Homo sapiens: one gene and its partners. The protein of the gene in region 5 purifies or fractionates together with the protein of the main gene of each other region. This does not show direct contact. Each region holds a gene or a part of one and is shown on either strand. Other genes may lie near its edges. The genes, in order: PPARA, GPC1, ATF1, WRAP73, GOLIM4 and OCRL.

The links.
Region 1: the proteins of GOLIM4 (region 5) and PPARA purify together in Homo sapiens (co-immunoprecipitation; one large-scale study listed by IntAct). This does not show direct contact.
Region 2: the proteins of GOLIM4 (region 5) and GPC1 purify together in Homo sapiens (co-immunoprecipitation; one large-scale study listed by IntAct). This does not show direct contact.
Region 3: the proteins of GOLIM4 (region 5) and ATF1 purify together in Homo sapiens (co-immunoprecipitation; one large-scale study listed by IntAct). This does not show direct contact.
Region 4: the proteins of GOLIM4 (region 5) and WRAP73 purify together in Homo sapiens (co-immunoprecipitation; one large-scale study listed by IntAct). This does not show direct contact.
Region 6: the proteins of GOLIM4 (region 5) and OCRL purify together in Homo sapiens (co-immunoprecipitation; one large-scale study listed by IntAct). This does not show direct contact.

The regions. Positions count from the first base shown.
Region 1 is NC_000022.11:46,156,485-46,161,281, reverse strand, and holds part of PPARA (peroxisome proliferator-activated receptor alpha), read right to left. Parts: intron 241-4,797; exon of another isoform or gene 1-240. UniProt on the Homo sapiens protein: Ligand-activated transcription factor. Key regulator of lipid metabolism. Activated by the endogenous ligand 1-palmitoyl-2-oleoyl-sn-glycerol-3-phosphocholine (16:0/18:1-GPC). Activated by oleylethanolamide, a naturally occurring lipid that regulates satiety.
Region 2 is NC_000002.12:240,438,157-240,442,953, reverse strand, and holds part of GPC1 (glypican-1 precursor), read right to left. Parts: intron 1-4,797. UniProt on the Homo sapiens protein: Cell surface proteoglycan that bears heparan sulfate. Binds, via the heparan sulfate side chains, alpha-4 (V) collagen and participates in Schwann cell myelination.
Region 3 is NC_000012.12:50,770,159-50,774,955, reverse strand, and holds part of ATF1 (cyclic AMP-dependent transcription factor ATF-1), read right to left. Parts: intron 1,508-4,797; exon of another isoform or gene 1-1,507.
Region 4 is NC_000001.11:3,635,865-3,640,661, forward strand, and holds part of WRAP73 (WD repeat-containing protein WRAP73), read right to left. Parts: intron 2,959-4,797; coding exon 2,886-2,958; intron 1,235-2,885; coding exon 1,131-1,234; intron 167-1,130; coding exon 80-166; intron 1-79.
Region 5 is NC_000003.12:168,011,502-168,016,298, forward strand, and holds part of GOLIM4 (Golgi integral membrane protein 4), read right to left. Parts: intron 1-4,797. UniProt on the Homo sapiens protein: Plays a role in endosome to Golgi protein trafficking; mediates protein transport along the late endosome-bypass pathway from the early endosome to the Golgi.
Region 6 is NC_000023.11:129,542,428-129,547,224, reverse strand, and holds part of OCRL (inositol polyphosphate 5-phosphatase OCRL), read right to left. Parts: intron 2,268-4,797; coding exon 2,188-2,267; intron 1-2,187. UniProt on the Homo sapiens protein: Catalyzes the hydrolysis of the 5-position phosphate of phosphatidylinositol 4,5-bisphosphate (PtdIns(4,5)P2) and phosphatidylinositol-3,4,5-bisphosphate (PtdIns(3,4,5)P3), with the greatest catalytic activity towards PtdIns(4,5)P2.

The DNA of each region.
Region 1 (4,797 bases), on a different chromosome or scaffold from region 5:
AATTGGGCACACATCCTTCTGAAATTCCTTCTAGAAAATGATTTAATCTACTAAGAAAGCCCACATTTGAATTCATTCATTCCAAAAAGAGTCTCCATCCACTTCCTAGGTTTTGAGCTCTTTTTATGAGTCCATGGAAGCTGCCGTGGTTTTCTCTGAGTCCATGGCCATATTTTCCCTCTGGGTTCTTGTTTCTTTTAAGTCTTATACCTCTATTAGTATTAAAGATCATCAGCTGTGCTTGAGTGTGGTTAAATATTCACTTTCACTTAGACTTCTGACCTAGACACTAACAGCCAACCTTGCTAGATTCATCTAAGTAAAGGGAATGCAACAGGAAAAAAAGCCAATAATTTTTGGTTTCCAGAGTGAAAGAAAAATACTGGGCTGGACATCATGAATCACACCTGTAATCCCAACACTTTGGGAGGCCAAGGCGGACAGATCACTTGAGCCCAGGAGTTTGAGACTAGCTGAACATGGCTAAACCCCATCTCTACAAAAAACACAAAATCTAGTTGGGTGTGGTGGTGTGCACCTGTAGTCCCAGCTGCTCAGGAGGCTGAGGAGGGAGGATTGCTTGAGCCAGAGAGGTGGAGGTTGCAGTGAGCTGAGATCACACCACTGCACTCCAGCCTGGTGACAGAGTGAGATCCTGTCAAGAAATAAATAAACAAACAATATTGGGCCAGGTGCGGTGGCTCACGCCTGTAATCCCAGCACTTTGGGAGGCTGCAGAGGGCGGATCATGAGGCCGGGAGTTTGAGACCAGCCTGGCCAACGTGGTGAAACCCCATCTCTACTAAAAATACAACAATTTAGCCAGGCATGGTGGCGCGTGCCTGTAGTACCAGCTATGTAGGAGGCTGAGGCAGGAGAATCGCTTGAACCCAGGAGGCAGAGATTGCAGTGAGCTGAGATCGCACCACTGCACTCCGGCCTGGGTGACAGAGCGAGACTCCATCTCAAAAACAAACAAACGAACACCAATATAGATTTCTTATATTGGCATCCTGCTAAATACTCTTCACATTCTCTGTTCCCACGTGAAGCCTGGGACTTTGAAGGCATTGCTACTGCTCTGAATTGAAAGCTTCCACTTACAGCTTTCTGCTGGAAAGATCCCCGCCAGCTGCCACCCTTAGCTGGGAATGGGAGCCTGCTCCTCTGGGTTCAGTGCACCAGCCCTGGATCCGCACTTCCCAGCCCTTCGCTGGCGGTTCAAGACTGTGGTTTTCAGGCTGCTGCAGTGGTGGTCGGCGTCTTCCAGTCACAGCTTGTGATCGGAATCTCTGTCCCTACACTACTTCTGGGTGTACACACCTTCTTCCCTGGGTCTGGAAACCTCTCTCTTGGCTTCGGAGGAATTCACTAGGCACCCACAACCCACCCTCAGTGTCATTAGTCATCACTTGTCACGCAAGTTCTTTGAACGCTGTTAGTGCCAGCTTTTTCTCTCAAGGATCCTTGGCTTCAAACACATTTAAATACCCTCTCCCCTTCATGCCTCTCATTTTCCAAAGCCTTCTTCCCAGGATAGCCCTCTCCTTTGAGTCCCACCTTCAAGATCTTCGCATAATTGAACTTAAAAAATTCCCTCTTTCAGAACACCTTGCTGAATAGACTAGACTAGGCTTCTTTTTATGATTTGAGTATTACAACAATTGAGTGCCTTCCTTTCTGGAAAAGGCTAACAAAGCGAGTTTTTCTAAGGAAAGAAGAGAATGAAAATCGCGTTCTAAACTTTTGTGCACTTCTGATTGCTTGCTTGTGAATCACAGGGAAGCCGTGCAGAGATGGGAAGCCCAACCTCCCTTGCCTGTATCTGGTGACAGGTTCTGTAACAGTTGTCAAAGTGGGGGGAAAAAAACGACAATCGTACAACTCAAGCAAAATACGCTGCTTCACAAATTGTAAAGTCCAAGGACACTGTCAACAGGTCAAATACTGCCCTGCTTGTTTCTATTACAAAAAACTTTTACATACTAAGAGATGATTCCAATTTAAAGCACATTTCTAACTTCTCTGAGCATTTTTTTCTTTAAACATCATTTGTGTTAATTTCATCCCCAATGCACAGATAGAACAGAAGCCAGGTGTGGTGGCTCATGCCTGTAATCCCAGTACTTAGGGTGGCTGAGGCGGGCAGATCACTTCAGGTCAGGAGTTTGAGACCCAGCCTGGCCAACATGGTGAAAGCCCGTCTCCACTAAAAAATACAAAAATTAGCCGGGCGTGGTGGCACATGCCTACAATCCCAGCTTCTCAGGAGGCTGAGGTAGGAGAACCACTGGAACCCCGGAGGCAGAGGTTGCAGTGAGCCGAGATCACGCCAGTGCACTCCAGCCTGGGCAGCAGAGCGAGACTCCAGCCTCAACACCCCCGACAAAAAAAAGAGACACTATCCCAGTTGTCAAGCTGCCTCATAAAATGAGCTAAAATGAGACTGCAGTCTAGAATTTATCAAATTTACTCATAATCCTAGGCAGAGGGCAATATGTTCCTCATGTTAGCAGCCCACTCAATGTTATTTTGTTCCATGTGGAAAACTGCCTGAAAATGCTTCAAAAAATTCATCCCACTTAAATATCCCTATTACCATTTCTTCCATAGATAACAGAAGAAAACTTGTTTCAGATCATCAAGATTTGCATGTCACTTGATTGGCAATCTGTATTTTACAAGCCATATTGCTGAATTATAAACACGCATTTAAATACTCATGTAAAGCTGACCACGAACTTCTTAGAAAGGGACATATCCACGTGTCAACCTCTAAATAACTGGGTCTCTTTTACTGAAACTTGGCAATTTGTCACCTTGGCGTGGTTATCACATAACTTCAGACGTATTCAGTTACAAACAAATGCAAAAAAACTTGGGGCCTCACTCTTTTTTTTTCTGAGATGTGCAGTGGTGCGATCTCAGCTCACTGCAACCTCCGACTCCTGGGTTCAAGCAATTTTCCTGCCTCAGCCTCCTGAGTAGCTGGGATTACAGGCACCTGATACCAAGCCTGGCTAATTTTTGTACATTTAGTAGAGACAGGGTTTCACCATGATGGCCAGGCTGGTCTCAAACTCCTGACCTTGTGATCTGCCCACCTCGGCCTCCCAAAGTGCTGGGATTACAGGTGTGAGCCTCCACGCCTGGCCTCGCTCACTCTTAAAAATGAAAAATGAAAAATGAAAGGGGGTGGGGGAACTTCAATATTCTGCTTTACTATAGCCTCATCTCAAACCATTCCTATGAAGCTCATAATCTTGGAAGCCATTAGTCCTTCTGTATTTGCCTTCCTAACTCTTACTATTCAAAATGATGCTCTTTCGAAAGTTGGCTTGTGGTCTATAAGTTAAAATATAAAGCAAGTAAATCTGAATAGAAATCTTCACTCCTCTTTATCTGCAAATCTCTTAAAATGGAGCAAAATAAAAGCATTCCGATGAGTCCTGCCTCCTGGAACACAGACGATATTTCATCTGAGTTTTCTCCAATTTCTCCTGGGAATATTTTAATGTGACAGTCAGAGCAGGAGAAGGACCCTCACCTTGTTAAATATCAGTGCTGCCCACCTCACTTCCCTTTCACCATACCCCTTCCCTATGAAGTCAGTTGTGTTGAATTTAAATCCATGATCTTGCAGAAAGAAAGAGGATTTTATTTAAATAGATCCTCAGGTCATCTTATAAAAATTCTATTTAATCCATAATATACCCCAAATCTAGTGATGATTATGAAGGGGACCCTTTCAGCGGCAGCCCTCACCTTCCTAACACCGCTGTAATGGGAGGTACATATTGGACATCTGGAGGAAACACCTGCTCCCTACAGAAGGAAGAAGAGCTCTCTCTCAGTCTAGGTGTGGGGGAAGCTGCAGAGGTCTGGGACAATTTCGCTGCGGTGGGATGGAGCGGGCCATCATCCGTAGGTGCCGCTGTCTGCACTCCTGTTTAGGTGCCTCCCCCTTCAGCCAGCTCCCACCTACATCTCAGTACTGTGGTGACCACACAGGCCCATCAATACATTCTTCTTGAATTAAATTCTATTAATCAGGTACTTATTCAATGAACATTTACAAGTACCTACTCAGTTTACACGGCTAGCGGGGCAGAAATAAATAAGACATCCTCTCTGCCCTCAAGGAGTTAGACTCAGCGAGGACAGTCAGACTAACAGAAACAGGGGTGCAGGCAGCACCGGGTCCTGGCTTGACGGAACTGTGTCCAGGCATGGGGAGATTCACTGGGCCTGCATTTCAGCAGATCCCTCTTCAAGATGAAGAGGCCTGGTCCAGGTATGCCATGGAGTTGGAGTAAGAGCAAACACAAGGTATAGCCCTGCCAAAACCTGAGGTCACAATCACCTTCAAAACACACAGGAGGCCGGGTGTGGTGGCTCACGCCTGTAATCCTAAGACTTTGGGAGGCTGAAGCAGGTGGATCACCTGAGGTCAGAAGTTCAAAACCAGCCTGGCCAACATGGTGAAACTCCATCTCTACTAAAAATACAAAAATTAGCTGGGCGTGGTGGCGGGTGCCTGTAGTCCCAGCTACTTAGGAGGCTGAGGTGGGAGAATTGCTTGAACCCGGGAGGCGGAGGTTGCAGTGAGCCAAGATTGTGCCACTGCACTGCAGCCTGGGTGACAGAGTGAGACTCTGTCTCAAAAACAAAAACAAACACATAGGAACCACTTGTAACAACTTTATTGTACTGGTGGAGAAATCTCACTTTTATATTCCAAAATGAAAACCAGTTTTGGTGTATAAGGGGTACGGTAGCATGTTGCTTTCTGAAAGC
Region 2 (4,797 bases), on a different chromosome or scaffold from region 5:
GTGCCCAGAGAGCGCCTCAGGTGGACGGGGGTGAGTGGCAGGCTGGGGCGTGGTCACTCCCTCACACTGTCACCAGGGTCTCGGGCACATCTGTGCTGAGCTCTAAGCCCATTACAGAAACACGGCCCAGTGCTCAGGAGGCCACAATCACAAAACACCCAGAGCCTCGGGGTCTTTGCCACCTGATGGGAAGATGTAGGTGTGCCGGGCTGGGCTAGCTCCCCACTACAGGCTAAACTGTACCCCCAAAACCCACATGGCTGAGGCCTAACCCCGATTCCTCAGGATGTGACTTTGGGTGTGGAGTCTGTGTGACACCTCTCGTTAAGAAGAGATGGTACCGGTGGGCCCTGACCCAATTAGAGTTGTGTCCTTGTGAAGAGGGGGAATTCGGAGACAGAAGCGCACACGGGGAGAGCGGCCTGTGGAGGCCAAGGTGGGATTTACCAGCCAAGGAACACCTGGAAGCTGGCAGTGTGGAGCAGACTTCCTCACGCCTCAGAAGGGGCCAGCCTGGTGGACGCACACTTGATCTCAGGCTTCCAGGCTCTAGAACCACGGACGACCCATGTCTGCAGCTGCAGCTGCTCAGCCTGTGGCACTGTTCCGACAGCCCTGGAAACACTTGTGCTCCCAACCCCGGCACCCAGCCCCACCCGGTACCGGGAGGGACTCGGGGCCTTCCCCACCCTGTGTGGAGCTCAGGCCTGCCCAGGCGGGGGCCCCGGCAACAGGGAGGGTACGTGTTGGCCGATGCCCGGGAAGTCAAGCTGTGGGGAAAGGCCGGAGGAGGCGGGTGCTGTGGGTGGGCACAGGGAGGACACCGTGGAGGGAGGGGACAGGTGTGCCAGAAAGGTGGGTCAGCAGGAGCTGGCGGGAGATGGAGCTGAGGCCACAGGCAGGAGAGGGGATGGTGTGAGGCTGGCCTGGCCCTCTCAGGGGCTCCTAAACCCACCCGGATTCCAGACTGCTACCGAGCCTGGGGCAGTGGGGTATGCCCCTCACACCTGTACTTCCCCGCCACCCACGGCGGGCCAAGGGCAGCCAAGGAGGCTGCAGCTCTGGGCCCTGCTCCTCAGCATAGCCCTCACCCAACACCTGGCTGCTGCGTGCTCCCGCCTGGGTGTGGGGCCTGGAGGTGGAGGGAGAACCGCCCGCTTCCCTGGCCCAAGCCTCAACACCCTACACTGCACCCCCCACCCCGTCAGGAGACTTCAAGCGGCTCAGGGCACCTGCCCAGGCCTGTTCCCAGACAAAGAAAAGCCACCACAGGCACGGCAGCGAGGAGCCCAGGCTCCGGGCAGGCGGCTCCTGTCTGGAGCCCCCACGTAAAGTGGGCAAGATCCCGGGCCCCACAGGGCTGTGCTGGCGACTGGCAAGATCCAGGCCGGCTCAGGGCTCTGGGCACGTCGACACTGGACAGGGCCAGGGCTGGGCAGAGGCCCCGCATGTAGGAGTGCCCACCCCAGCCTCCACCACGGGTCCAGTCTTGATCTGAAATAACTGAGCCAGGCCCTGTGAGGACGGTCTGGCTTAAGAAAAGGCGTCCAGCCTCTCACTGGCCCGGGCACGGCAGATGTGGGGCCCCAGGCCAGACCTGACCAGTGTGGCTTCGGGTGAGCCCCTCCCCTGGCTCGTCTCCTGTCTAGTGCCAGCCCATGGCTGACACCTGTGCCATGCACATGGATGCCATAGAACAGACATGGGCATGCTCAGACACCCACTAAGCTCTCCTCCGAGGTCTGATGTGCAGCCCTGCGGTTCGGCCACCAGGTAGGTATGCCCCCCGTCCTGCTGTAGGGAGGCGTCCTCGGTACCTGGGAAGGCGCGTTAACCACAGGCTCACACTGTCCCTAGAGATTGCTGGTGTGAAGGTACAAGCCCCAACAGACTGGACTGCCTTATCTCCCTGGCTTGGCACCTGTGGGCACCTGAATAGGGTACCTGTCCACTAATCCTGGGGCACTTGGCCCAGTGTGGGTGGCTGGTCTGCCCTGTTGGGGACATGCAGGGCTTCGTGGCACACGCTGGGAACAGCCCTCCTAGCAGTCCTGCCCCCCACAGGCAGTGGAGCCAGGCCGGAGGGTGAGGCCCAGCTGTGTGGAAGTACGACTCTCTGGGCGGCACGGCCAGGAGGAGCTGGGCAAGACCGGAGGCAGGGAGGCCAGGAGGAGCTGGGCAGGACCGGAGGCAGGGAGGCCAGGAGGAGCTGGGCAGGACCGGAGGCAGGGAGGCCAGGAGGAGCTGGGCAGGACCGGAGGCAGGGAGGCCAGGAGGAGCTGGGCAGGACCGGAGGCAGGGAGGCCAGGAGGAGCTGGGCAGGACCGGAGGCAGGGAGGCCAGGAGGAGCTGGGCAGGACCGGAGGCAGGGAGGCCAGGAGGAGCTGGGCAGGACCGGAGGCAGGGAGGCCAGGAGGAGTCCCGGTTAAACGTTCTAAATGAGCCTAAGAGATGGAGCCCAGGCCCAGGACAGGAGAGCGGGCTGGGAAAAGCACGAGCCTTCCAAGAAGTGCAGAGCCTGGGACAAGCAGCCTGGCCTGGCTTTACTGGGCAGTGGTCAATGCTGTAGCCAGATCTGGCCCTAAGAGGAGCGCTTCACCAGGCTTCGGTTTACTCATTTGTAAAACAGGTCTACAAAGACCCCTTCCGTCTGATGTGTTAACCAGACAGTCATGGGAAACGCTCCACAAGCCGGGTTTCCCCGTGTTCTAAGAGCACCCGGGTTCATGAGTGCTCTTAGGGTACCGGATGCCATTAACTGAGAGGGGTGTGTGTGGGCCTTTGCAGAGGGTGTCCGGGGAGAGGGGGGACACAGCCCGAGGCTGCCCACGAGGTGCACAGCCCCAGCACCTTCTCCCTCCTGGCCACCTTCACAGGAGGTCACGATTATTCCCTTTCTCTCCTGTGAAAAGGCCCGGGGACACCGGGGATGGGATGGGGGTGGGGGCATCTGTGCCTGAGGAGTGCTGTGGCCTGCCTGGCATGGGAGGCTTGGCGGTCCAGCAGGGACCCAGGCCATTGCATCACGCAGGTGGCCCTGTCGGATCAGGGCTCCCCTGGGCTCCGCTCGGTCCTCACGCTGGGGATGATGAGCTCCTCTCATGGAGGGAAGAGCAGCGACACAGCAAAGGCTGAGGACCACCTGGGAACCACGCTGAGCCACCTGGACAGGACAGGGCACAGGGAACTGTCTGGTCTGGTGAGGGGCTGTGTGCCAGGCAGCCTCCGAGAGGCCCGCTGAGCAGGACTGAGAAGCAGATGCTGGTGGGCTCTCCCGGGCCCAGCCGGAAACACCCTTTCAGGGATGTGGGAAGGAGAGGTCCAGGCCCTCTGAGGATGGTTCCCCAGAGTCTGTGTGCCAACCACCCAGGCGGTCAAAAGTGGCACAGAGAAGAAAAGATTCCTTCGGAGGGGCCCAACGAGTGGGTGCTTGGTACAGGCTCCAGGGCACGCTGGTGCCCGCTCCAGCTGGTAGGCGGGCTGCCACTCTGGGCACAGGAGCGGCTGGGCAGTTTCTGTGCCACCGACAGTCCCATGCCCCACTCTGACTTCTGCCCCCAAAACTAGACCTTAGGGCCCCTCCTCTGCCTCAGGCTGGGAGACCCTGAGAACAGGGGTGTCTGCTCCAAGGAGACCCTCCTCTACCCTCCATGTCCCGCTCCCCACCCAGCACAGCCAGGTATAAAGCCAGGAAGGCCTGGGGGTGTCCTCCGAGAAGCTATCCTGGGCCGGGAGCCAGCCGGGTTCTGTGGCTACAACAGGGAAACAGTTAGAGGTGGTCCCAGCGACCAGGGAGCTCAGGTGCCAAGGTGGGGCGCTGAGACCCCAGCAAAGGAGCAAACAGACACACATCACATCACATCAGACATCAGGAGGCCAGACAGGTGCTCTGGGAACACCTATGCCCAGACACAACCTTGCAAGCAAAAGCAGGAGGCCTGCTGGCACGCGGGCAGTGATTCAGCATGAGGGCTCCTGGCAGCGCAGGGGCACCCGGGGTGCCACTCGGCTCCGCCCTTGCCTTCTGTGCCGTGCCCTGGCATAAAGGGAGGGTGGCCGGGTGCCCTGCTGCAGTGCCACCGTCCAGCTGGTGGCACCCAGGCCTGCTTCCTTGCCCATAAAATGGGATGACCACTGCTGTCACTGCAGCCTGGCCTGGCTGTCCAGAGGACAAAGGAAGTCTCAAAAGGGAGCCCAATATGTCCCGACACTGCCCTCTTTCATGAGCTAAGTCTCCTGTCACCCACTGCCTTTTCTGGTCCCTGGGGCAGAGGCTGGGAAGGCCCGCCACACACCCAGGGCCAACTGCTCTCCTTCCCACGAGGAAGTATCAGATCTCTACCCCACCTGCTCCGGGCCAGCGAGGTGCCCAACCCCAGGGGGTTCGCATTCCCTCTGAGGAGGTCCCCCTGGAGAAGTCTGGATGCAGGAGAGAGGGGACTGAGAATGGTGCCTACTAGGCCACAGAGGGTCCAGGGCTCCTGGGAGGATCTGCCGCCCAGGGGCCACCAGAGGGCGCCCGTTCCACGGAGCCCAGGCCCAGCCGACAAAGCAGGAGGGGACACTGGGCTTGGCTGCCCCAGGACTGCTGCGACCCGAGGGAGTCACCCTGTTTCCCTCAGCCCACGTGGCTCCCACACTGTCTTCTGTACCCTGGGTCCCGAAGGTTACTCCCCACTTCTGCAGCCATAGGGGGTGCAGGGAGAGAGGTTCCTGTCGGAGGGGCACCGACTGGAGAGGCAGTAATCCTGCCCAGTGCAGTCCTGGCCTTGCAAGTCTGGAGGAGGGTGGCACCCC
Region 3 (4,797 bases), on a different chromosome or scaffold from region 5:
TGTGAATGGTGAAACTCCGTCTCTACTAAAAATACAAAAAATTAGCTGGGCGTGGTGGCGGGCGCCTGTAGTCCCAGCTACTCGGGAGGCTGAGGAGGGAGAATGGCGTGAACCCGGGAGGCGGAGCTTGCAATGAGCCGAGATCAAGCCACTGGACTCCAGCCTGGGCGACAGAGTGAGACTCCGTCTCAAAAAAAAAAAAACAAAAACAAAAACAAAAAACTCTTTTTTCCAAAATAAAAATTTTATAGTTTCATCTCATAAACAACAGTACATACTGTTTTACTGATGTTATCAGAATGTAACCTTTATTTGTTCACTTTTTTAAAGCTATTATTTCTAAAATTAAGGTTAAGATTAACAATGTGTTAAAAACTTGTTCAATACAGAATAAATTTTATATGTACGAATGCATTTTCTGTAAAAATAAAGTAAGCCCCCAGTTAGCATATATAAGCTTAACAGGAGATAACCCAAAGTCAGGCAGAAACAAGGGAGTAGTGAAACACCGCTTCAAAAGCACCATCAATGGGAATAGAAGGAACTGAGAAATGGTGGGCTGAGATCTTGCTGACATAGAGAGAATGTCAGGGAAGGCAGGGCCCTTTTAAGAAAACTTGCAGCCGGGCGCGGTGGCTCACGCCTGTAATCCCAACACTTTGGGAGGCCGAGGTGGGTGAAACACCTGAGGTCAGGAGTTCAAGACCAGCCTGGCCAACATGGAGAAACCCCGTCTCTACTAAATATAAAAAAGAAATTAGCCAGGCATGGTGGCACATGCCTGTAATTCCAGCTACTCGGGAGGCTGAGGCAGGAGAATTGCTTGAACCCAGGAAGCAAAGGTTGCAGTGAGCTGAGATAGTGCCAATGCACTCCAGCCTGGGCAACAAGAGTGAAACTCCATCTCCAAAAAAAGAAAAAAGAAAAGAAAACTTGCAAAGAAAGAAACATTATATGTTAGGCAATAAACTAAGAGCTTTTTAAGCTCAACATTACTGATCATTAGAGAAATGTAAATCAAAACCGCAATGAGATACCATCTCACGTCAGTCAAATGGCGATTACCGGCCTGGCATGGTGACTCACACCTGTAATCCTAGCGCTTTGGGAGATCGAGGCGGGCAGATCACTTGAGGTCAGGAGCTTGAGACCAGCCTGGCCAATATGGCAAAACCCCATTTCTACTAAAAATACAAAAATTAGCCAGGCGTGGTGGTGGGCACCTGTAGTCCCAGCTACTTGGAAGGCTGAGGCAGGAGAATCGCCTGAACCCAGGAGGCGGAAACGATGCAGTGAACAGAAATTGCACCACTGCACTCCAACGTGGGCAAGAGAGCAAGACTCAGTCTCAAGAAAAAAAAAAATAGCTGGCATCGTGGGTGACTGTGGTCCCAGCTACTTGGGAGGCTGCCCAGGAGGCGGAGGTTGTAGTGAGCCAAGATTGTGCCACTGCACTCTAACCTGGGCAATAGAATGAGACTTTGTCTCGAAAAAAAAAAAAAAAAAAAAAAGAATGGCAATTAAAAAGTCAACAGTTGGCGAGGTTTGGAGAATAAGGAATGCTTTTACGTTGTTGGTGGGAGTGTAAATTAGTTCAACCATTGTGGAAGACAGTGCAGCAATTTCTCAAAGACCTACAGGTAGAAATACCATTTGACCCAGCAATACCATTATTGGTATATACCCAAAGGAATATAAATCATTCTATTATAAAGATACATGCCCACATATGTTCACTGCAGCACTATTCACAATAGCAAAGACATGCAATCAACCCATATGCCCATCAATGAGAGACTGGATAAAGAACATGTACATATATATCATGGAATACTATGCAGCCATAAAAAGGAAAGAGATAATGTCCTCTGCAGGGTCATGGATGGAGCTGGAAGCTGTTATCCTCAGCAAACTAACAAAGGAACAGAACATCAAACACTGCATGTTCTCACTTATAAGTAGGAGCTGAATGGTGAGAACACGGGGACACATGGTGGGAGAACAACACACACTGGGGCCTGTGGAGGAGGGTGCGGTGGGGGAAGGGAGAGCATCAGGAAGAACAGCTAATGGATGCTGCGCTTAATACCTAGGTGATGGGTTGTTCTGTGCAGCAAACCATCATGGCACATGTTTACCTATGCAGTAAACCTGCACATCCTGTGCATGTACCCTGGAACTTAAAAGTTGAAGGGAAAAAAAAAGGCTAGGCGCACTCCAGCCTGGGTAACAAAGTGAGACACCCGTCTCTTAAAATAAAAGAGAGAGAGAGAGAGAGAAAAATATATTTAGACAGTTACCTCACCCCAGCTTTAGAAATGGGACAACTTGGCCAGGCACAGTGGGTCACACCTGTAATCCCAGAACTTTGGGAGGCCGAGGTGGGTGGATCACTTGAGGTCAGGAGTTCGAGACCAACCTGACCAACATGGTGAAACTCGGTCTCTACTAAAACTACAAAATTAGCCAGGGGTGGTGGCACATGCCTATAATCCCAGCTACTTGGGAGGCTGAGGAAGGAGAATCGCTTAAATCCAGGAGGCGTAGGTTGCGGTGAGCCGAGACCATGCCATTGCACTCCAGCCTGGGCAACAACAGTGAAACTCCATCTCAAAAAAGAAAAAAAAAAAAAAAAAAGGAATGGAGCAATTCAGGCACAACAAAACTTGCAAAAATATAGCCAAGTGCGATGGCTCATTCCTGTAATCCCAGCACTTTGGGAGACACTTTGTACCCTTAAGCGATAGGATCGCTTGAGCCCAGGAGTTTGAGACCAATCTGAGCAACACAGTGAGACGCTATTGTTACAGGACAGGGTCCCAATCCAGACCCCAACAGAGGGTTCTTGGATCTCGCACAAGAAATAATGGGTCAAGTCCACAGTGTGAAGTAAAAGCAAGTTTATTAAGAAAGTAAAGGAATAAAAGAACGGCTACTCCATAGACAGAGCAGCCCCGAGGGCTGCTGGTTGTCCATTTTTATGGTTATTTGTCGATGATATGCTAAACAAGGGGTGGATTTTTCATGCCTCCCCTTTTTAAACCATACAGGGTAACTTCCTGACTTTGCCATGGCATTTGTGAACTGTCATGGCGCTGGTGGGAGCACAGCAGTGACGACGACCAGAGGTCACTCTCGTGGCCATTTTGGTTTTGGTGGGTTTTGGCCGGCTCCTTTACTGCAACTGTTTTATCATCAAGGTCTTTATGACCTGTATTTTGTGCTGACCTCCTATCTCATCCCGTGACTTAGAATGCCTTAATCATCTGGGAATGCAGGCCAGTAGGTTTTAGCCTCATTTTACCCAGCCTGTTTAAGATGGAGTTGCTCTGGTTCATACGCCTCTGACATTTCCCCCCGTCTAAGAGAACCCTTAATCCTAAGGGTTGCAGAGGGACGAAGATCCATCTTCTATAACTTCTTCAGGCTAAATAGGGCAATGATATTCCTGCCTGCCTATGAGGGTCTCTTGCATTCAGGGTAAAAAGGAGCTCAGTCAGAAAGCATCAGTATGGTAAGGTTCATTCATAACTCAAGTTTCAACAAAAGGTGGTATCTGGAAAATTAGTAAGAAAACGTTCAGTAAGCTTGTCCTGTATTCCTACACAAAAAGTATAACAGCAATATATTCCACAAGAGTAAAGCAAAATAGGCTGGGTACAGTGGCTCACACCTGTAATCCAGCACTTTGGGAGGCCGAGGCAGGTGGATTACCTGAGGTCAGGAGTTCGAGGCCAGCCTGGCCAACATGGTGAAACCCTATCTCTACTAAAAATATAAAAGTCAGCTGGGCGTTGTGATGTGTGCCTGTAATTCTAGCTACTTGGGAGGCTGAGGCAGGAGAATCACTTGAACCCAGGAGGCGGAGGCTGCAGTGAGCCAAGATGGTGTCACTGCAGTCCAGCCTGGGCGACAGAACAAGACTCTGTCTCAAAAAGAAAGAAAGAAAAAAAAAAGAGTAAAGCAAAATAAGTAAAGTTATTCCAAATAAACTAAATTAGAAGACTTTTCATGAACCAGGCAACCACTGGAACTAAGCTGATATCGGGTTGTTAGCTGATTGTAATGTGCCCAGAATCAGAATACTGATCCAGATTTTTAAATTACCCATCCCTCTTATTTCTTCTGAGCAACAATTAGAGATTACTGGTTGGTTTACAAGAATACGCAGGGTTAGCCTAAATTGCAGAAACAAACTTAAAAACAATTAATGAGACCAGAATTTAATAACAAGTGTACCATAGTTTTTGAAACATAGTATTTCTCTCTCCAGTTTCCCATTTTTACTAAAGACAAATTATGGTAAGACTGACTTGCTTTATTATACTTGGCCTGATTGTTTGTATAAAGTGCAGCAAGAATAATAATTTTTCACATAGGCTTTTTAATTGGCTTTGATGGAACTCTGTTTCATAAGGAATCTCAGATAAGACTTTTTTAAAAGCCAAGCCCTGACATGGGTTTGTACCCTTAAATACCTATAACTTGGGTAAATTTCTCTCCTTTTGAGGTCCCAAGATAACTTGGGGCTCCTGGACAGGTGAGAAAGTGACATTCTTTACTTACCATAGGTCAGAAACCCTGTACAGGCACTGTGTAGGCAAGGTATGAGGCCAGTTCCCCAAAGGGCTTTTATTGGCTCTACAAGTCAAGTTTGATTCCTTAAAGAAAAGCACACCATTTCAGTCAAAGCCTTGGTAAAATAACCACTTTCTCCAATTGTATTCTGTTACAAAAGAAAACAGATTCTTATTGCACTTATGCAAATAATTACATTGCCATAAGTTAAGAATACTC
Region 4 (4,797 bases), on a different chromosome or scaffold from region 5:
CTATATTGCAGCATTCAGAAAGCATGAAATTCCGGGAAAAGCTCTCGAAAGCAAACATGTCACCTGGTCATCTTCATACCTCCAAGCAGGTGTCCCACACTGCCAGCACACAGCCGTTTGGGGCCCACTCAATCCCTGTGAGATCCTGGGTGTCCGTATCAAAATGCTTCCAAAGGAAGGGGGGGAAACATTAAATTTGGAAAATATTTTCGTAAATAAATAATTGCATTTATGACTGATGTTCTTAACGCACTTAATTTCCTTATATAGAAATTGACAAAATCTCAACAGCTCTATCCTGGAAATGCATGAAATCCCTGTAGAGCTGCTGCTGGGGCTGCACCGCCACAGATGCCAGCGTCAGTGCCTGGCCAGCCCCCAAGGGCGGCTTGGTCTCCCCGCGCCTGCACTCGTGTGCACACTCTCCCCCTCACCTTTCCTTGCCTGGCCAGCCCCCGAGGGCGGCTTGGTCTCCCCGCGCCTGCACTCGTGTGCACACTCTCCCCCTCACCTTTCCTTGCCTGGCCAGCCCCCGAAGGTGGCTTGGTCTCCCCGCACCTGCACTCATGTGCACACTCTCCCCCTCACCTTTCCTTGCCTGGCCAGGCTCACTCCTTTAGACCCAGCTCAGACAAGTCCCTTCCAGAGCACTGCCTGGATCCCGGGTTCTGCACTCTGACAGCATTCCAGAGGTTGCTCTACCTTAATGATGGATTGTGCTGGAATCGTGTTCATATGTCTGCTGTGGGGGCAGTGCCCTCTGTGCCTGGGCACCTGGCAGAGCGCCCTGCCTAATGCAGGCCCTCAGTCAAGGTGAACTTCCACGTCCCCCCAACTCCCGACGTGGCACACACATGCGCAAACACCATCACACAGGACAAGGAAAAGGGCTCAAATGTGACAGCATATTCACTTTTAAAACACCTGGGCACGCGTCCTTTTCACCAAGTCTCCTGAACACACAACCGGGTGCCACTGGAAGTGATTCGCAGCGCACCTGCCCTTTGTTAATACAACATCACCTTGCTCCATATCCTACCAAAGATCCCCTGGAATCTGGAAGGATCTACTTCACTCGATCCCTCCACAGTCAGCAGGACAACTTTATTCCAGTCTGGGGGACGCCTTACCCGCAGGAGCTGCCAATCACTGCAGACGAAGATGCTCACGTAATCTTTGCAGTCGCGCCGTTCTGCCAGCGCCATGTAGCGGCCGTCCCTGGTGAAGGTGATTCCTGTGGGAAGAGGCAAATGCACTGAAATCAAGCGGCCACAAAATCAAGCAAGAGAAACCACAGTAGTAATTCACAAGGAAGGAGGAGGAAAAGAAAGCAGAGGTGAAAAGAAGGGAAATGGCACAATGCCGAGCACTGCTCCTCAGACAGACAAGAACATTCTAGCGCAGAGGAGAAACCCAAGGCACGGTGCCTTCACCCTCACAACGCAGTGTGTGCTGGGGGAAGCTGTACACACACAGGAGCCGGTTTGCAAGGCTCTGTCAAAAATACCAAGTGATGTGACCTCTGATTAATCACAAATATGAGTGAGAAACACAGGCCTTCGAGTCCCCCCATGTCTAAGCTGCGGGACACCCAGGGCTATCTCCAGCTAGGCAAAAGGCAGCTGGTTCCTACCATATTTATTTTACCTTTGAATTTAATTATTTGGAAGAAGTAAACTGAAGATGAAAATGTGTGGCCAGGCATGGTGGCTCACGCCTGTAATCCCGGCACTTTGGGAGGCTGAAGCAGGTGAATCGCTTGAGCCTAGGAATTTGAAAGGAGCCCAGACAACTTGGTGAAACCCCATCTCTACAAAATATCAGCCGGCTGTGATGGTGTGTGCCTGTAGTCCCAGCTACTCAGGAGGCTGAGGTGAGAGGATCACTTAAGCCCAGGAGGTCGAGGCTGCACTGAGCTGTGATCGTGTCACTGCACTCCAGCCTGGGTGACAGAGCAAGACCCTGTCTCAAAAAAGTAATAATAAGATGAAAATGTGGAAGAAACTTTAGTTGAAAATGTTAAACTCTTATTTTCCAGTTCTGTATTAGCTTAAAAAGCCCTAGGCCAGAATTCATCATTCCTGAGTGAAAAGAATACCTCAAATGACGAAACCACGGTGTCCACTCCTATCAAGAGATATGTATCTCATCTGGAGGGACGCTAATATTCCAACTATAAGAATAAGAGTGTGACTGCATTGCATTCAAATGCAATTTCCAAACCGCTGGCAGCAACAGAGAAAAATGAAAGCATCATTCCAACTGTGTATGTTTCATTCCGCAAAAAGACAGTGCGGTGTCGTCCAGGACTCAGGAGTGGCACCTCCCACTAGCTCTGCGCGGTCCAGTTAGACGCGCTGGCAGTGGGCCACCCTGCGCCGGCCCCCTTTCTTCCAGATGGCTCACAGGCTTCCACAAGGAAGGGACACTGGTCACATATCCCTCTGGGATGCCCAGAGATGACAGGCAAGACCTCCCCCTTTCGCAGACATCATATTTAGTCCACAGAAGAGAGAAAGCTCAGAACTGGATGCCTGAGGTGGGCCTCTCAACAGGCATCGGCTGGAAGGGGTCTGAACGCCCAGCTCTGCCGCCAAGGTCAAGGGGACCGGCATCAACGCCACCGTTCTTCCATGTCTTAGGCCACGTTGTCTTGAGTCACTGTGGTCATGTTTTAAAAGGGGACTCTTGCCTTTTTGAGACACATATGGAAATATTTACAGATGAAGTATGAGGAGACCTAAGGTCTCCTTTAAAAGAGCCCAAGGGGGTTGGCTATGTGTTGATATGCTGCTGAAGCTACTTCTGCCTCTTTGAAACTTCCCGTGACAAAAAAGTCAAACAGCTGCAAAGAAATGGCTTTTGCGTGGCTCCGATCGACTCACCCTGCAGACAAGCTTTCGGGTATTTGATGTAAGACACGGATTTTGTGCACAAGGACCAGACGGTTATCCGCAGCTGTTGGGGGAAAGGGGAAAGAGAAAGGAAACACTTCTTTAGCATCATCAGAGACCGTCTCAATCCTCAACCCGCCCACGCGTCCCCAAGCACAGGCCTGACTGCTGGAGTGGATCTATCAGGACCTGGGGGATGCCTGCCCTCCTACCGGAATATTCAAATGCGTATTTTACTGTGGTTACGGTAAATTTGGTGTTCTTGGTTTTCTGTTGTTGTTGTTTTATACCAAAATTGAGTGACACAAAGTTAAATCCAAGTGCTTTTTCATTAGCTTTTTCAAAGTGACCATAGGTTGCATGTTATAATAACCCTGAGTTACTCAGAGAAAAATCTTGATCTAGAAACCACCACGGGTTCAGTCTCCTTTATGGGAAGACAGAGGATCTGGAGATTGGATGCAGCCACTCCGGGACTCACCAGGGGGCTGTGAGCCTGCATCTGCAGCCCTGAGGCAGGAGCAGCCACTCAACACCCAAGAAGGTGTCCGTCTGCCTCCTGCGTGTGCTCGCTGGCCTGGCTGCATCTGCAGAGGGTTCTAGAACATGCGCTGCTGGACTGTCCACTTTTCCACCCCTTTCCCTGACTCAGGGAGCTGAGAGCTGACTAGGCTGGCACAGTGAGGCCAAAAGATGATTTTCTAACCAGGCCGACGAGGGCGTGCCTGCTGAGGGAGAGGCACCGCAGTGGGTGGTCCAGCCCTCCCCGTGGCAGCGCCGCGGGACTTCCAGGGCTGCTGTGTCCCTCCACCTGCATTTCCCACTGAGACCCCGTGGAGCCTACCAGGGAATCATCTTGCTTCCCACATCCCCGGCCCACTGATGAATCTGGTAGTTAACTGAAATATGGCCGAGGTGCGGGGACACAAGGTGCGGGGTGGGGTGCTGACTGCCAGCTCCGTGTGTGGGGACACAGGGCTGCGCAGCTCCATGTGGGGTGGGGTGCTGACTGCCAGCTCCGTGTGTGGGGACACAGGGCTGCGCAGCTCCATGCGGGGTGGGGTGCTGACTGCCAGCTCCGTGTGTGTCAGGCAGGGGTCCTCGCTGAGGATGAGGCCCGGGGTGGGGGACCGTCTCCAGCAGCGTAAGTGGGGCCGCAGCGTGTGGGGCACAGCATGTCCACAGTGTCACTCCTGCAAACGCTGCCAGGTTGTCAGTATAGGATATTAACAAATGATTTAATTTAAATGTCTACGCATCATCTCTTCTTACAACAGAAAAGAAAATCTGATGTCTGTAATTGTTTCTCCAAACAACATATACAGCGTTCAGGAGAGAAGTCCTGAACACACAGGTAGTGGATCAACGAGCTCCAGGGGTCACGTGGCAGCACGGAAGGGCTCCTGTGCTGATGCTGAACCCGAAACACACTGGCCGTTCTGGGGACCATGCCTCGGAACTCCAGCTGCACAGAGCACTTGCTCCTCTAACAGCTCCACAAGCTGAGGCCAAGGAGGGCGCTGGGGCCTGAGCGAGGAAGCGTGCTACTTCCCACCAGCGTGTCTGAGGCTGAAACCTTGCCCAAGCCTCTCAGACTCAGCAGGGTGGGTGCAGCGCCTGAGGCTCTGAGCATCAGCAGGGCGGGGTGGAGCGCCCGAGCATCTCAGCATCAGCAGGGCGGGGTGGAGCGCCCGAGGCTCTGAGCATCAGCAGGGCAGGGTGGAACACCCGAGGCTCTGAGCATCAGCAGGGCGGGGTGCAGCGCCCGAGGCTCTGAGCATCAGCAGGGCGGGGTGCAGCGCCCGAGGCTCTGAGCATCAGCAGGGCAGGGTGGAACGCCCCAGGCTCTGAGCGTCAGCAGGGCGGGGTGGAGCGCCCGAGGCTCTGAGCATCAGCAGGGCAG
Region 5 (4,797 bases):
AACAAAGCAGTGGGGAAGCTCCAACTGGGCGGAGCCCACCACAGCTCAAGGAGGCCTGCCTGCCTCTGTAGGCTCCACCTCTGGGGGCAGGGCACAGACAAACAAAAAGACAGCAGTAACCTCTGCAGACTTAAATGTCCCTGTCTGACAGCTTGGAAGAGAGCAGTGGTTCTCCCAGCACGCAGCTGGAGATCTGAGAACGGGCAGACTGCCTCCTCAAGTGGGTCCCTGACCCCTTACCCCTGAGCAGCCTAACTGGGAGGCACCCCCCAGCAGGAGCACACTGACACCTCACAAGGCAGGGTATTCCAACAGACCTGCAGCTGAGGGTCCTGTCTGTTAGAAGGAAAACTAACAAACAGAAAGGACATCCACACCAAAAACCCATCTGTACATCACCATCATCAAAGACCAAAAGCAGATAAAACCACAAAGATGGGGAAAAAACAGAACAGAAAAATTGGAAACTAAAAAGCAAAGCGCCTCTCCTCCTCCAAAGGAACACAGTTCCTCACCAGCAACAGAACAAAGCTGGATGGAGAATGACATTGACGAGCTGAGAGAAGGCTTCAGACGATCAAATTACTCTGAGCTACGGGAGGACATTCAAACCAAAGGCAAAGAAGTTGAAAACTTTGAAAAAAATTTAGAAGAATGTATAACTAGAATAACCAATACAGAGAAGTGCTTAAAGGAGCTGATGGAGCTGAAAACCAAGGCTCGAGAACTACATGAAGAATGCAGAAGCCTCAGGAGCCGATGCAATCAACTGTAAGAAAGGGTATCAGCGATGGAAGATGAAATGAATGAAATGAAGCGAGAAGAGAAGTTTAGAGAAAAAAGAATAAAAAGAAATGAGCAAAGCCTCCAACAAATATGGGACTATGTGAAAAGACCAAATCTACGTCTGAATGGTGTACCTGAAAGTGATGGGGAGAATGGAACCAAGTTGGAAAACACTCTGCAGGATATTATCCAGGAGAACTTCCCCAATCTAGCAAGGCAGGCCAACGTTCAGATTCAGGAAATACAGAGAACGCCACAAAGATACTCCTCGAGAAGACCAACTCCAAGACACATAATTGTCAGATTCACCAAAGTTGAAATGAAGGAAAAAATGTTAAGGGCAGCCAGAGAGAAAGGTCGGGTTACCCTCAAAGGGAAGCCCATCAGACTAACAGCGGATCTCTCGGCAGAAACTCTACAAGCCAGAAGAGAGTGGGGGCCAATATTCAACATTCTTAAAGACAAAAATTTTCAACCCAGAATTTCATATCCAGCCAAACTAAGCTTCATAAGCGAAGGAGAAATAAAATCCTTTACAGACAAGCAAATGCTGAGAGATTTTGTCACCACCAGGCCTGCCCTACAAGAGCTCCTAAAGGAAGCGCTAAACATGGAAAGGAACAACCGGAACCAGCCACTGCAAAATCATGCCAAATTGTAAAGACCATCAAGACTAGGAAGAAACTGCATCAACTAACGAGCAAAATAACCAGCTAACATCATAATGACAGGATGAAATTCACACATAACAATATTAACTTTAAATGTAAATGGACTAAATGCTCCAATTAAAAGACACAGACTGGCAAATTGGATGAAGAGTCAAGACCCATCAGTGTGCTGTATTCAGGAAACCCATCTCACGTGCAGAGACACACATAGGCTCAAAATAAAAGGATGGAGGAAGATCTACCAAGCAAATGGAAAACAAAAAAAGGCAGGGGTTGCAATCCGAGTCTCTGATAAAACAGACTTTAAACCAACAAAGATCAAAAGAGACAAAGAAGGCCATTACATAATGGTCAAGGGATCAATTCAACAAGAAGAGCTAACTATCCTAAATATATATGCACCCAATACAGGAGCACCAAGATTCATAAAGCAAATCCTGAGTGACCTACAAAGAGACTTAGACTCCCACGCATTAATAATGGGAGACTTTAACACCCCACTGTCAACATTAGACAGATCAACGAGACAGAAAGTCAACAAGGATACCCAGGAATTGAACTCAGCTCTGCACCAAGCGAACCTAATAGACATCTACAGAACTCTCCACCCCAAATCAACAGAATATACATTTTTTTCAGCACCACACCACACCTATTCCAAAATTGACCACATACTGGGAAGTAAAGCTCTCCTCAGCAAATGTAAAAGAACAGAAATTATAACAAACTTCTCTCAGACCACAGTGCAATCAAACTAGAACTCAGGATTAAGAATCTCACTCAAAACCGCTCAACTACATGGAAACTGAACAACCTGCTCCTGAATGACTACTGGGTACATAACGAAATGAAGGCAGAAATAAAGATGTTCTTTCAAACCAACGAGAACAAAGACACAACATACCAGAATCTCTGGGACGCATTCAAAGCAGTGTGTAGAGGGAAATTTATAGCACTGAATGCCCACAAGAGAAAGCAGGAAAGATCCAAAATTGACACCCTAACATCACAATTAAAAGAACTAGAAAAGCAAGAGCAAACACATTCAAAAGCTAGCAGAAGGCAAGAAATAACTAAAATCAGAGCAGAACTGAAGGAAAAAGAGACACAAAAAACCCTTCAAAAAATTAATGAATCCAGGAGCTGGTTTTTTGAAAGGATCAACAAAATTGATAGACCGCTAGCAAGACTAATAAAGAAAAAAAGAGAGAAGAATCTAATAGATGCAATAAAAAATGATAAAGGGGATATCACCACCGATCCCACAGAAATACAAACTACCATCAGAGAATACTACAAACACCTCTACACAAATATACTAGAAAATCTAGAAGAAATGGATAAATTCCTCGACACATACACTCTCCCAAGACTAAACCAGGAAGAAGTTGAATCTCTGAATAGACCAATAACAGGAGCTGAAATTGTGGCAATAATCAATAGCTTACCAACCAAAAAGAGTCCAGGACCAGATGGATTCACAGCCGAATTCTACCAGAGGTACAAGGAGGAACTGGTACCATTCCTTCTGAAACTATTCCAATCAATAGAAAAAGAGGGAATCCTCCCTAACTCATTTTATGAGGCCAGCATCATTCTGATACAAAGCCAGGCAGAGACACAACAAAAAAAAAGAATTTTAGACCAATATCCTTGATGAACATTGATGCAAAAATCCTCAATAAAATACTGGCAAAACGAATACAGCAGCACATCAAAAAGCTTATCCACCATGATCAAGTGGGCTTCATCCCTGGGATGCAAGGCTGGTTCAATATACGCAAATCAATAAATGTAATCCAGCATATAAACAGAGCCAAAGACAAAAACCACATGATTATCTCAATAGATGCAGAAAAAGCCTTTGACAAAATTCAACAACCCTTCATACTAAAAACTCTCAATAAATTAGGTATTGATGGGACGTATTTCAAAATAATAAGAGCTATCTATGACAAACCCACAGCCAATATCATACTGAATGGGCAAAAACTGGAAGCATTCCCTCTGAAAACTGGCACAAGACAGGGATGCCCTCTCTCACCACTCCTATTCAACATAGTGTTGGAAGTTCTGGCCAGGGCAATTAGGCAGGAGAAGGAAATAAAGGCTATTCAATTAGGAAAAGAGGAAGTCAAATTGTCCCTGTTTGCAGACGACATGATTGTATATCTAGAAAACCCCACTGTCTCAGCCCAAAATCTCCTTAAGCTGATAAGCAACTTCAGCAAAGTCTCAGGATACAAAATCAATGTACAAAAATCACAAGCATTCTTACACACCAGCAACAGACAAACAGAGAGCCAAATCATGAGTGAACTCCCATTCACAATTGCTTCAAAGAGAATAAAATACCCAGGAATCCAACTTACAAGGGATGTGAAGGACCTCTTCAAGGAGAACTACAAACCACTGCTCAAGAAAATAAAAGAGGATACAAACAAATGGAAGAACATTCCATGCTCATGGGTAGGAAGAATCAATATCATGAAAATGGCCATACTGCCCAAGGTAATTTATAGATTCAATGCCATCCCCATCAAGCTACCAATGCCTTTCTTCACAGAATTGGAAAAAACTACTTTAAAGTTCATATGGAACCAAAAAAGAGCCCGCATCGCCAAGTCAATCCTAAGCCAAAAGAACAAAGCCGGAGGCATCACACTACCTGACTTCAAACTATACTACAAGGCTACAGTAACCAAAACAGCATGGTACTGGTACCAAAAGAGAGATATAGATCAATGGAACAGAACAGAGCCCTCAGAAATAACGTCGCATATCTACAACTATCTGATCTTTGACAAACCTGAGAAAAACAAGCAATGGGGAAAGGATTCCCTATTTAATAAATGGTGCTGGGAAAACTGGCTAGCCATATGTAGAAAGCTGAAACTGGATCACTTCCTTACACCTTATACAAAAATCAAGTCAAGATGGATTAAAGACTTAAACGTTAGACCTAAAACCATAAAAACCCTGGAAGAAAACCTAGGCATTACCATTCAGGACATAGGCATGGGCAAGGACTTCATGTCTAAAACACCAAAAGCAATGGCAACAAAAGACAAAATTGACAAATGGGATCTAATTAAACTAAAGAGCTTCTGCACAGCAAAACAAACTACCATCAGAGTGAACAGGAAACCTACAAAATGGGAGAAAATTTTCACAACCTACTCATCTGACAAATGGCTAATATCCAGAATCTACAATGAACTCAAACAAATTTACAAGAAAAAAACAAACAACCCCATCAAAAAGTGGGCGAAGGACATGAACAGACACTTCTCAAAAGAAGACATTTATGCAGACAAAAAACACATGAAAAAATGCTCAT
Region 6 (4,797 bases), on a different chromosome or scaffold from region 5:
GATGGCCTCACTCTCTCACCCAGGTTAGCATGCAGTGGCACAATCACAGCTCACTGCAGCCTCGAACTGCTGGGCTCAAGCAACCCTCCTGCTTCAGCCTCCCAAGTAGCTGGGACTACATGTATCTGCCACCACGTCTGGCAAATGTTGTTTTTTTAATTTTATTTTTGTACAGATGGGGTCTCGCAATGTTGCCCAGGCTGGTCTTGAACCCCTGGGCTCAAGCAATCCTCCTGCCTCAGCTTCCCAAAATGTTGGGATTACAGGTGCAAGCCATCGCGCCTGGCCACAGTTTACAAAATAGATGCAGGGGTCAGGAAATAGAAAGGAGATGAAAATCAAAAGTAAGTCTTCCTTTAGTCATGGGGAACTACGTTACATGTGTGCACATATTTTCCCAGGTTCTAAGAAGCAGCACTACGATCTAACAATCAGCAATTGATTTCTTATTAAAAATACTAAGAGAAACAGGGTAAAAGAGATCCTAGAGGTAGAGTAAAAAGGTACAAAGCTAATAGGATATTAATTTAAAGTCATGTTCTTTGGCTCTTCCCCTCTGTGAAGGCCTACACCTTGAAAAGTGAGGTGGCCACAGCAACTTACTATGGAACGTGGCTACCTTGTTTAGTATGTCTCTCTCACATAGGGCAGGCTAAATAGCTATCACTTCATTCTTCCATACAAATATGGACACTATTCATTGAAGTTATTTTTAATTCTTAACACATGCATTCTTAAAAAGTCATATCCACTAGCTTAGTATTTTCACTTATAGGAATACATCCTGAGGAAATAAGAGATGTGCAGGTATATTTAGGTGCAGAGATGTTCATCATATTACTATTGATACTAGTGAAAAATAACCCAAATGTCAACATAGGGGAATAATTACATTATGGACCATTCATAAACTGGTATGGTATATAGCCATTAATGGCATGGAAAAGTGCTCATAATACAATAGCATGTAGAAGAGACAAAAAATTGTATAAGATGAGTATCACTCACCCTGCAATGTATGTGTAGAAAAAAGGAAAATGCTAGGTGTTTATCTCTGAAAGGATGGGAATTTAAGTGACCTATTTTCTTTACACTTTTCTGTTCTTTCCAAATGTATTACATTATGTACATGTCACTTAGTGATTAAAAAAAAAGTTCAATGTAGTTTAAGAAATAATCCATGCAAGGTAAGATTTAAGTTTTCCAAGAAAGGCCAGGCATGCTGGCTCACACCTGTAATCCCAGCACTTTTGGAGGCCGAGACAGGCAGATTGCTTGAACTCAGGAGTTTGAGACCAGCCTGGGCAACATGGCGAAACCCCGTCACTACAAAAATTACAAAAAAAATTAGCTGGGGGGTGGTGCACCTGCAGTCCCAGCTACTTGGGAGGCTGAAGTGGGAGGATCACTTGAGCCTGGGAAATGACCTTGTCTTGAAAAAACAAGTTTTCCAAGAAGCTACAATTGATACAGAATGCTTCTGCTAGATAAAGCCACTGGTCCTAGTGAAAACAGAATGCATTTGTTCTCTAGTATCAATTTCCTTTCTAGAGCAATGTGAGATGACAGAAGCAACACCTCCTACACAAACCTCCCAATTTTTAAGTTTCATTGTAGCAGATGAAACAACAGATTTTCTATGCTCCGTCCCCAAATTTGAGGGCAGGAGGCCAAATATTTCCTCCCCAGAGTCAATTTTCTTATGATTCACCAATGTCAAGGTTTGAGAATCAGCACAATTGAGTGTAAGATATTACAGTCTGGCAAGGCATGTTGCCAAATGTCTTAATTTCAAATAGCATGTGGAGAAAGTGCTGAATGTGTGTGAATCCAAGTGACCTTGGTACCTTATGAGCACTGTGTCCGTTAAGCCCAAGAATGTTATTTAAATCCACATATAGGTCAGTCAGCATAAAAAACTACCTACACAGGTAACAATCTACATACATCTCTAACCCAAGCCAAGGAAACAGGTGAGACTATAGACACACATATACAAATATATTTCGATATAACCCTTCAGCATTCTTAGAGAAAGTATCATCTCCTCAATGTTATCTTTTTATGCAAAGAGTAATACATTTCATTTTACATGCACTGACAAATTTAAATATGTATGGTATTACATAATGCAGTAATGACCGAGAAAAAACATTATAAAACTAGCTAAGGAATTAAAGCTAGTACCTTGAACACATCTGAAGTGGCTATTTATAGGAATGATATCTTGAACATGCTGTTCCTTCTCATGCAACTGGATTATTAACCTAGGAAACAGAAGAACGCATCAAAGAACAGCCACTGAAAAACTCATTTAGCAAAAAAATACTTCACTGTCCTGTTATACAAATCTAGTCTGTATTTACTAGACTTGCTGCATCTAGTTCCCTGGATCTGAGCATCATGACAGCTAGATATTGCTCTAGGCCTAAAAGGATGCTAGTGGTGATGAACATCTGATTACCCACACTGTTCTCTAGGCCATATATCCTAAAAACAGTGTACAAGCTTAAGAGCATGAATTACAGAGTATATAGCTTCAGAGTATGCATACCAGAGTGAAGAACTGACAGCTAGATGTGAAGTCCATGAGTGCAGGGACCACAGCTATCTTTACACCACGGAATTTCTAGTACCTAGCACAAAGCCTGGCACACAGGAGTTGCTCGTGTGTGTGGAATCAATGAATTAGAAAATTCATAAATTAACCTTCCAATTATATTCCCATGGCTTTTTACCAAAGAATGGATCTGTCTCTTCAAACAAGCATTCAGGTTCATGGAGGAGTAAGAGGGGGTGCTCAGCCAGCTGGATTGGTCAAAATATCAGTGACCAACAAGGTGGCAGATATCACAACTGGATTGCCTTCAAATCCCTTGTTTCTTCTCTGGTTTCCAAGTTTACGCTGGTATTTCTACATAAACATGAGTAAACCTGACTCCCCAGATGAAATCCATACTTCTAAATCCATACGTACTCCTGAAATATTAATTTTTCATTTATTATTTATCCTTAGTGGTCCAGAATCAAGGTACGACCTACTGGTAAACAGCCATTCTGAACGTCAACTAGCATTCTCAAAGTCAAGCACTCTTCAAGTATTGTTTTTAGTTTTTTGTCAGGAACACTCTGTTTCTTTCCGAGTTTCATCTCAAATATCACCTCCTCCATGAAACTGTCCTCAGTACCCCCAAGCAGAACCAGCAGCCTTATCGCCTTTGTTTGCCCCTCTAATAGAACACTTACACACTCCATTATGGTTATATTTATTTCCCCTCACTGATTTCAGCTCCTTGAAAGCAAAGACCAGATCATATTCAGTTTTGTCTGCAGCCTAATAGATGCTCAACAAATACTGGCTGAATAAATTAACTAGCTTAATTAAGCTATAAGCAGCGGTGAATTTTTCAATGAAACTGTCCAACTTCTGACATTAAAATGTCATTGTTTTGAAGGGTTTGATTTCTATTTTGTTGTCTTTTGGGGGTGCTTGTTGCTTTTGCTTTTTGCATTTTCAAATGTGTTAACTTTGAAGAGGATAACCTGGGATAGGATAAGTAATTACTTAGATAGAACTAAGGGAAATAAAAGTATTAATGCTGTTTTTCTGCTGTGATCCTTCTTGCCTAATTTGCAGGGGTTTGTACTCTAAGGTGATTACAGGAATATGGGGCAGGCCCCTTTCCATCTGGAAAGTTCATGAGTTGAGTGGAGAGTCCTATAAACCCAGATGGAAACCAGAAACCAGATAAAAGGCTGAGAAATCAAGGGTTAAGGAGGAAGAGCTTACTTTGAGGAAGATAAACACAAACCACTAAAATCTCAAAATACATAAACAAGAAATGGTGTTGAACATTAGCATTAAAGCTTCATCTGGACAGTACTGTTAAAAACTATTACAAAACAAATAAACTGAGAATTTAAGTGAATTTCACCAACATTTATTGAGTATTTACTACGTGTTACCCACTAAATTACAATAAAAGAGTAGGGCTAAGAATAAGCATAAAAATTCTGAGTGTAATTATTCATTTCAGAATATAAAGATTAGAAATAATTGGTATACAGCAAAACAATGGAATTCAGAATTTGGTAGTTGTCAAACAGAAAAGAGTGACAAATCCTGAATGCCAACTCTGCCTTATCCCTAGGAAACACTTTGATTTGTTCAAGGAAGGTTAAAGGTCAAACAGGTTTTGTCATAATCTATTATCCTTGAAAAATATGAATCTTAAGTGTTTGATTCCCTGTTTCCAAAAAAACCCTGATTTTTAATTGTAATTTTGGTCAAGCAAATTTCCTATGGTTGACAGTAGGAACCACAGACCTAAAGATTTAAGTCAGGCTTCAAGTTCTAGGATAAAAAAGCCAAAAGTAAAAAGTTCTGGACACTCGAGTCAGAAAAGACACCAGAGAGACAAGAATATGAGGATTACAGATGGTATTATGGTATTAGGTGTCTCCAGCAAATGCTTTCAAGAGAAACTTCTCAGTGTAATTCTGAGACATGTTACATAGGATCAGATCTCAGGTATTCTACTCCCTAATTGCAAACAAGTGACTTAACCTGTCTGTGCTTCAATTTCTGTATCTATAAAAGGGGGATGATGATATTACTATCTTATAGTAACCCTCACATGTGGATTAAATGAACTAACTAATGAAAAGGGCTTAGAACAGTACCTGGCACATAAGCAGCCATTGAATGTTAGTTATATAGCAACAACTATATTAGTTGTTAGTTATATGTTAGTTTATATATAAACTATAGTTTATATGTATTTAAAACTATAGTTT